Linked DNA regions of Homo sapiens: all the other regions are linked to region 1. Evidence: fine-mapped expression QTL. A gene starts in region 1. Each other region holds a variant in brackets. All regions are shown on one strand. Distances are from middle to middle.

The links. PIP is the estimated chance that this variant, and not a neighbour inherited with it, causes the effect.
Region 2: its variant is fine-mapped to the expression of MLLT3 in whole blood (INTERVAL, PIP above 0.99).
Region 3: its variant is fine-mapped to the expression of MLLT3 in breast (GTEx, PIP 0.96).

The regions. Positions count from the first base shown.
Region 1 is chr9:20,621,520-20,624,278 of GRCh38, forward strand. It overlaps MLLT3 (MLLT3 super elongation complex subunit), which reads right to left and starts at 980. Exons shown (of 11, transcript NM_004529.4): 1 at 726-980. The coding sequence starts at 737. RefSeq lists silencers at 269-318, 389-538, 959-1,418, 1,439-1,578.
Region 2 is chr9:20,208,491-20,211,249 of GRCh38, forward strand. It overlaps a transcript of SLC24A2 not described here. Among named protein-coding and RNA genes, the nearest start is that of MIR4473, 200 kb to the right of the region's middle. The variant T/C (reference allele first, on the strand shown) is at 1,213.
Region 3 is chr9:20,318,063-20,320,821 of GRCh38, forward strand. No RefSeq gene overlaps it. Among named protein-coding and RNA genes, the nearest start is that of MIR4473, 92 kb to the right of the region's middle. The variant A/G (reference allele first, on the strand shown) is at 1,715.

The DNA of each region.
Region 1 (2,759 bases):
AAAAGCCCCACGCGATCGGCGAGGCCAGTCGAACCGAGCCCCCGCAACACACTTTCAAGAGCCCAAGTGGCTCCAAAGTATCTCCCACCTCCCCCCAAAAAATGAAATTCAGAAAGGCAGGGCGGCGGGCGGACAGCCGCCGAGCCTCGGCTCGCGCTCAGCACCTCCCGGCGCTGGGGCAAAGTTGCGTGCGGCCCCGCCGCTGTCAGCCCCGCACACTTCGGCTCACACACGCGCGCCGCGGAGAACGCACCATCGTAGCGGCCGCGGCGCTTTGCGGAGGTGCGGCCGCCGAGGCTGCTCGCCGCGTCCCCGGACTGTGCCCGCAGCTCCCGGCGGCGGCGGCTGAAATATGGCTGAGTTATTATTCGCCTCCTTCCACCGTGTGTGTGTGTGTGTGTGAGTGCGCGCGTGTGAGCGAGAGGGAGTGTGTGAGTGCGCTTCTTGTGACTGCAAAGAGGCGAGGAGGGAGGGAGGCGCGGGGGGTGGAGGGGCGAGTGTGAGCGTGTGTGAGTGTGTGTGTGTCTGTGTGTCTGTGTGCGCGCCGGGGGGGGGTGGGGGAGGAGGGGAGCGGAGGCTGAGGGAGAGGCGGCAGCTCCCTGCAAGCCGTACCAACCTTTCTCTAATTGGAACCGCGGAGCGCTGGCGCTGTCTGGGCTGCGGCGGCGCAGGGCGAGGAAGGAAAGTGGGGGAGGGCTTTTATTATTATTTTTGCGCGTACTTACCGAGCTAGCCATGCCTGGGGGCCCGGAGGTTTGCTGGGGTGTTGTGTGGTACCCCCCCCTCCTCCGCCCCCCCTCAGCTGTAATTCATGAAGAGGCTGCTATGAATGAGAGCGCGCCCAGGAGCGGAGGGTAGATGGCGGACATTCTCTGCCTTTTTCCCCCCGCGCTCGCTTGCTCGCTCGCTCGCTTATTAAACTCAGCCCCAAAAGCAAAAGCAGCAGCAGCAGCAGCAGCTCCAGGGTAAAGAAGATGATTGCGGAGCATGCGCCGTGGCGCCTGACACCCGGGCTCCGAGCCTCACAGGGCGGAGGGAGGGCTTGCGGGCGGGGCGGAGCGCGCGGGGAGGCAGAGCGAGCGAGCCAGGGGGAGCTCGAAAGAGCCAATCACCTGCCACCTCCCGAAACCCCGGCGGCCCGCAGCGCCACACTGGAAAGCCTCGCTTAAAGTAACAGGTTCCTGCTGGGGGGGTGGCAGGGAGGGGACGCAGGAGTGGGGAGAGCGGCCAGCTGGGGAGCCATCCCAGCCCCTGTGTAAACTCTGCTCGCCCTACAATAAAAAACGGATTAAAACTGCTGGAATGTAGCCACTGCTTAGAGCCCTCAGCAGCCGGAGAGGGGGTGTTAAATCAAGTCCTTAGCTAGTACGCACGGGGAGGAGGGAGTGGGCTTTCTTTTACTTTCCACCACGTATTTCTGTGGTTTTGTGCTGAAAAGACAAGAACTCACACCCAAACAAACTTACTTAAAGAGAGCGAGAGAAATGCCATCCTGCAAAAAACGAGCATGAAAATAGCAATGACTGAGGCTGTTCTAACCCGCAACGATCCCCTGGCCCCCTGCCCCATCCACTCACAGGCACCCGCCCGCCACCCTCACTCCCCGCCCTTCTGCCACCGCCACCGAAAATTTGAAAATGAAATGAACAAGGGAGAAACAAGGATGCTATTTCCTTGCAAGGGAACGCCTTCCGCTTTGGTAATCCCCGGCTGGGAAGCTTCATAAAGCGGTGCCCAGGTGAAAGCAAGACACCTGGGAGTGCCGGGTACAGACCCTCGGGGACCAGGCTTGGAGTTGTTTTCTTCGGGGGGCTTCCCCTCCTGACAGCCTACTGAGTTGCATCAGAACGTGGAGGATTGTCCTCTGAGGACGCGCGGGGCAACCGGGAGTCTTAAAATAGCAGATAAAGTTAATACTGACTGTAATGTGCGTAAATTGGATTATAATCTTTAGGCGTATTGGTGACAACCAGCGTAATCCATCTCTGAGTATTAATCCGGTTAGACTCCCGGGTGACAGCCAGTCGCAGGAGTGTTCCCAGAGTCGCGCCTCTGCAAATGTTCTCACTCGCGTTGTATTTGATCTCAGTGGCCGGAGATAGAACAGCGCGGCCACGCGTGGGGCGCGGAGAGGAGTATCAACTACTGGCTTCCTTTACAGACGCAGATAACCTTTAAAAAGGAAACGGATAAGATCTAGACGATTGATTTGAAAGTGAAAGATGGATGTGACTTTGGTTCGTTAAAAAAAGATCCTTGCATCTTCCTAGCCCTTAGACCTCTTTTGCCTTCTCTTTACTCCCCTTTTTCCCTCGCCTTCCAACTTCTTGCTGAACCTTGATTTTTCCTTCTCTTCTCCTTGCCTTTCCTCTTTGTCCCTCTTTCTTTCCTCTTTGTCCCTTTCTTTCCTCTTTGTCCCTTTCTTTCCTCTTTGTCCCTCTTCCTCTTTCTGACTGAACTTCCTTGCTTTCCTCTTTTCCCTTTACTTCCCTTTTCCACAAAAGCAAGTTGTCTCGGCCCTTGAATTGAGAAGAGCAGAATAGCGGGGAGGACGTTACCTAGGGCGTCCTGTGTCCTCGCTGTTAATTTTCAGTTCTCCCAGCAGCTCTCACAAAGATCCTGGGAATCAGGTCGGACCACTTGGAACCAACCTTAGTTTCCAAACCAGCAGCCTTCCAACTCAACTTTTGATTCCCTAAAACTGATATTCCGCTGCCTGTCAGTTATAATCAAGAAACTTCTTTGGCTTGAGGTCCCCA
Region 2 (2,759 bases), 410 kb before region 1:
CTGCTAAGAGAAAAGTTTTCTTCAGATGTATTTCTCCATCAGTGCTTTTCCCATAGGGCACCTAAAACCTTGATTTATCATAAATGTTTCACCCAGCATACACATACAGTAATACAAATGTGGCATATTTAAATGCACCCCTCAGAGAAATTTGCTGGCAGTGCTCATGACCCATAAATAAAGGAAAAAATAGCCCAGCTATGGTTGTTTCCAGAACGAGTAGATAGACCCCCATCTAGGCTACTGCCCAGAAGCTGAAACATAACTCAAGAGAGTCATGACCGTGTTACGGGAAAACCCGTTCTGGAGCTGGGACCTACTCCTCCTTAATGGCTGCCTCCAGAAACAGGAGGAATATTAACAAAGCTCTGTAGATTTCTTCAGCTGGTTTGTTGGACATGGGGAGCAAGGAAGTGGATCTGGCCAGTCAGCAACGTGGATCTAGTTGAGTAACTAAGGTGCAGTGCCTCAGTTCAAACTACGGCTCAACTGCTTACTAGCTCTGTGATCCCAGTTAACTTATTTACCTTGTCACTCATATGCCCTCTCTGTAAAATGGAGACATAAGTAGTATCTGTTTCATAGACTGCTGTGAGCATTAAATGTGATGATGTAACTCAAGGCTTAGCAAAGCATTCATTAAATGTTACCTATTACTATTATGATTGCTCACACCAGTCAATCAGCCAAGAGCATTTCCAGGTCTCAAATCAGTCAGGCTTCAAGACCAGCTTAACTGACTGTTTTATTCCCATATGTAACTACTTGATTAGCATGTTAAGGACACAGTTTCTGTAATGAATCACCCTGTTTTTAGTCTTCTTGCAGATAACATTCATTTTATGAAATTCTAGCCAAACAGCCATGCAAGAAAACTACTTGGTTTTTTATTTCCCTTCCTTATTGCTCATAACCTCTGTGTCCTGTAAAAATATTCTAAGAAACCCCTCTCTATTAAAATCTGAAACACAGTGCTAAACAAGCTCTCTTCCCCGAATTTGCCAACTGCTTCCTTTACTACTCTGAACAGACACTGCAGTTTTGAGAATAGCAGTTCTCTCATCCTGTCACTCACCAACACCCCCAGACTGGGGGCTCTTGAATCCCCATTCAGACCTGAGAGCTTTCACAAGTCCTCATTTAACATCCAGCAACGCCTTGAAACCAAACGCCAGCCACACTCACCCTAAGACTGGGTAAAGCATGAAGTAA[T/C]CACAGACTTTGATATTTTTCCGACCACAAACCCCCTCAAAGTCAAATGTGTCCATGAAAGAAAAGTGGCTCTTTCTTACCTAATCCACAGTGGAACAGGAATCAATAGAAACCACATCAAGATTGTGCTTGGTAAAAAATAAGAAAGACTTTCAAAAGTATACATTTGGTTTAAGTACGCCTGAAATATGAAATAACTAGAATAACACCATCCTTCTTGACCTTGATCATAAGGCCTTTCATAGGTATCTCTCAATACCTCAAGTGAAAGAAAGTAGTTAGAACCTTGAAACACTTTTTAAAACCTGCAGACAGCTTAATTGAAGGGGTCTTGTGAAGAGTTCATTGTCAGGGGTTTCTAGCAAGTGTTATTTCTTCCTGAATTCCACGAACCAAGTTCTCTGAAGTTTACATTCACACAGGATGAACAAGCCCACTGTGGTGGGCTTTAAAAGGGATAAAAGACCTGCTGTGGTTTTCTTTGGGGGACAGGTTTAACACCCGCACCTACACACCCAGACCCAGCACCTGGCAGGATGGCAGAGAAGCAGGTGGCCTCCCAGAGTTACAGCTTAAACTAACATCACATACATTTAAAGCAAGTGCTGGTAACTAGAAAAGTAATTTCTGACAGTAAGCAAATGGCTCTTAAATAATAAAATAAAATGTGTCAGGTGGTAGAAAGCAGTGACAAAAGACAAACATTTGGCTAAATAGCATTTAAAGGGAGAAGAAAAGATGGACAAAATCATCATGCAGAAGGCAGAAGGTTTTGTTTTTGTTTTTTTTTGAGACAGATCTCGCTCTGTCGCCCAGGCTGGAGTGTAGTGGCGCGATCTCGGCTCACTGCAAGCTCCGCCTCCCGGGTTCACGCCATTCTCCTGCCTCAGCCTCCCGAGTAGCTGGGACTACAGGCGCCCGCCACAACGCCCGGCTTTTTTTTTTTTTTTTTTTTTTTTTTTTTTTTTTTTTTCTGTATTTTTAGTAGAGACGGGGTTTCACCGTATTAGCCAGGATGGTCTGGATCTCCTGACCTCATGATCCACTGGCCTCAGCCTCCCATAGTGCTGGGATTACAGGTGTGAGCCACCGCGCCCGGCCACAGAAGGTTCTTGTGCACGTGAACGGTGCCAAGGGATGGGGCTTGTAAGCAAGGAGAGGGGAGAGGAAGAGAAATTTGACATGTGATTATCATCACAATCCCACTGCTGTTGCTGCCCGCTTCAGGTCTACCTTAGTCTGAACAGTCAATATAAACCTTTTGGATCTAGACTGTGTTCCGGAATAGGCAGAACTTTAGGTTTTAGAAGGACAAGACTGCCTTTGGCATTAGAAAGAAGAGGAAAAAAGATCTTTTTATTATTGCCATTAAACATATATCAGATAAACAGCTGCTGGAGCTAATGGCAAAAAAAAAAGAGACAAAGTTTGAATAAGCATTTGCTATCCTGATTGGTGTTAGCACTAGTCTTTCCTATCTTCTGGAAAATATCTGTTTGTTTTTGTAATTATAAAAATAATACATGCTGGCCGGGCGCGGTGGCTCA
Region 3 (2,759 bases), 300 kb before region 1:
CACATGAGGGAAAGCCCTCCTGTAAGGGACCCAGTGGACAAGGACAGACTCAACAACCACTGGGTCACCATCGATATTTCCTCTCTTGCCCTTTGGGCTTTTGCTCAGATCTCAGGCCATACCTGCTCCCTCTCTGACTGCCCCTCTCCCTCTGTGACCTGGCCCTGTAAACATCCTAACCCTGCTTCCCTGGTGAACTTCTTTTTCATCCTCGAGACCTTATCCTAGTCAACACGTTTTCCAGGAGGCCTTCTCTGGCCCCTCAGACCAGCCCACCATGTGCCCCTTGGCTGCAGGCAATTCCTCTTTCATTATCCTCATGCGCTTTGTGATTTGGGGCCTGGTGGGACAGTCTGCTGAACCATTCATTCATGGGTGTTCTGTGGTTCCATTTCTTCATTTCTACCAGGTGCCTGGCTTTGCATTCCTTTGCTGCAGGGATTTTTCCAGAGAGAAAGTGGAAGCTGAAGGAAGACATTGTTCTTCATGTAAAACACCCAGTCCTTTGCAGGCAAAGCAAAGGGTGAGAGCCCTTCCTTCGATGACAGGAAGAGAGGAGAGAAATTCTCAAGGTGGATGACGGTAGACAGATGCTGAGCTTAGCAGAGACCAGACTGAAATGTAACCAAGTGTTAGTGGAATACTTTTCCCCTGAATACATTTACTAAAAATTCAGCCTTTTAAACAATTTTTTGTTTTGAGTTGGTGTCTTCCTCTGTCACCCAGACTGGAATACAGGGACACAATCATGGCTCACTACAGCCTCAAACTCCTGGCCTCCAGAGATCCTCCCACCTTGGCCTCCCAACATGCTGGGCTTTTTAACAATTTTAAGTCATATGTTGACATGGCTGCTGTTAAGAATATGACAGATGATAGAGGAAAGAAATTGGACAATTAAGTGCCCAGTCTCCTATTAGAAGTTGGACAAGAGTACCTACTCCCCTATCATCCAAGGGTGGCTCAGGCCCTATTCTGCAGACCACCCCCTCCCCTCCCTGGTTAGAGCCTGCCTGTGTCTCCGACAGAAGTGTGCCTAGGGAGCTGTGAATATTCCTCAGAGAGATGGCCAAGGCGTGCACCTGAGGACGCCAGGGCCTTGTCATGGACTTTCCAGCTCAGGTGGACATTCATATACCCACAGGTCACACTGACACAGCAGAACACACTGAGCTGCCTCACATCTTGGCCTGCTTGCCCATCTGGAGACTGAGGTAAAATAGAGATGTTGGCAGCAGCTATGATGGACCAGAAACCAGAGGCCCTTCCTGTGTTTTCAGAATCCTCGTGAAGGCCCTGGGCTTCTGGTGCAAAACTAGGAGTTGGAATTTCCTGCTGCCCTGGCAGGATGAGAGCTTAGAGTCAGCTTTGACTTAAAGAAAACAAACAAAAGTGTGTATTTTTGCACATGAATTGTTGACTGAGGTTCATGCCCACACGATTTGTTTAACGTGTGACTTTTCCAAGTCCCTGACAGCCAAGACTGCCTGAACTCACGGCCCAACGCCCCAACGCATAGTAAGTGCTCGGTCAATATTTCCTGAGTCGAGTGAATGGGTAGTTTTGGAAGTCAAATCTTGGAAGAGCATTTCTCTGTTTCCTCCGGGCAGACCCTGCAGGCATCAGCTCCAGGAGGCATTCGTCCTGACGGTCCCCTAAACCCTGCTGACACATGAGCAGACACTGCACAACTGCACTGGCGGTTTCTGTCCAG[A/G]CAGGCACTCCCTCTGTGGTGAGAAATACCTCTGAAGTTGCCTAGCATCTTGGGGCTCCTTGCCCATCTTTAGAATTTTCAAGTGCCCCAAGCTATTGTGAATGTGTTCAATGTTTATATTCCAAGCAGCTTGAATCTATGCCTTGCAAAAATGCAAGTTGGAAAGTTAATTCATTCCTTTATGTCAAGGTAATTGCAGTTTCACCCTAATCCTCTCTTGTCAAAGACATTTCTACAATGCAGGGAGTTATCTTTTACAAGAGACACTTCAAGGTGATTTAATAACAACACTTGCTATGAGTCACATTTTCCCTGTAGTCATCTACTCTTCAGCTTGGGAGAGCAGGGCTTCAAGTACAGAAGAGAGAAGGCATTTGGCTAGTCACATAACCCACTTACACACGCTCAGCCAAATGTACACCTTCAAGAGAAAAAGAAAGCCCTAATGAGCACTTGTGGTAACTAAGGTGCTAAACGAGATCTTTCCAAGCAATGCTATTTTTGTTTGTTTGCTTTAGGGCAAGCTATATTCACTCAGTGCTTTGAAACTTAAGACACGTATGAATTTCATGACTGCGGACAAAGAGGAAATTTGATATGGAGATTAATTATTAATTCAACATTTACTGAGCCCCTACTATGAGCTGTGCTAGGGGCTTGGCTACAACAGCACACAGGCTTGCCTGCCAGCTGCCCTCACCAAGCTAGTGGTCCAGCAGGACTGCAGATGTCAAACAAATAACAAAGGCCAAAGATGTCTCTTTCTCTCTCTGTCTGTGTCTCTTTTAAATGCAAAACTATAAATTTATTTTATATACTCCTTTTTACTTCATCTGCATGATAAAAGGAATACAGATGTATTTTTTAATGTAACCAAATTCCCATCTCACTGCGCAGTAGGAAAAAGTCTACCCACTCCTCACAGTTTCTAGTTCTCCCCTCACAGTGGAGCTCATCAAAAGGCAGAGGACATTGGCTGGGACGTGACCAGGTTTCAGGCAATTTGGGAGTGAAAGGCCAGCAGGCAGCTTTATCTTGAAGACTG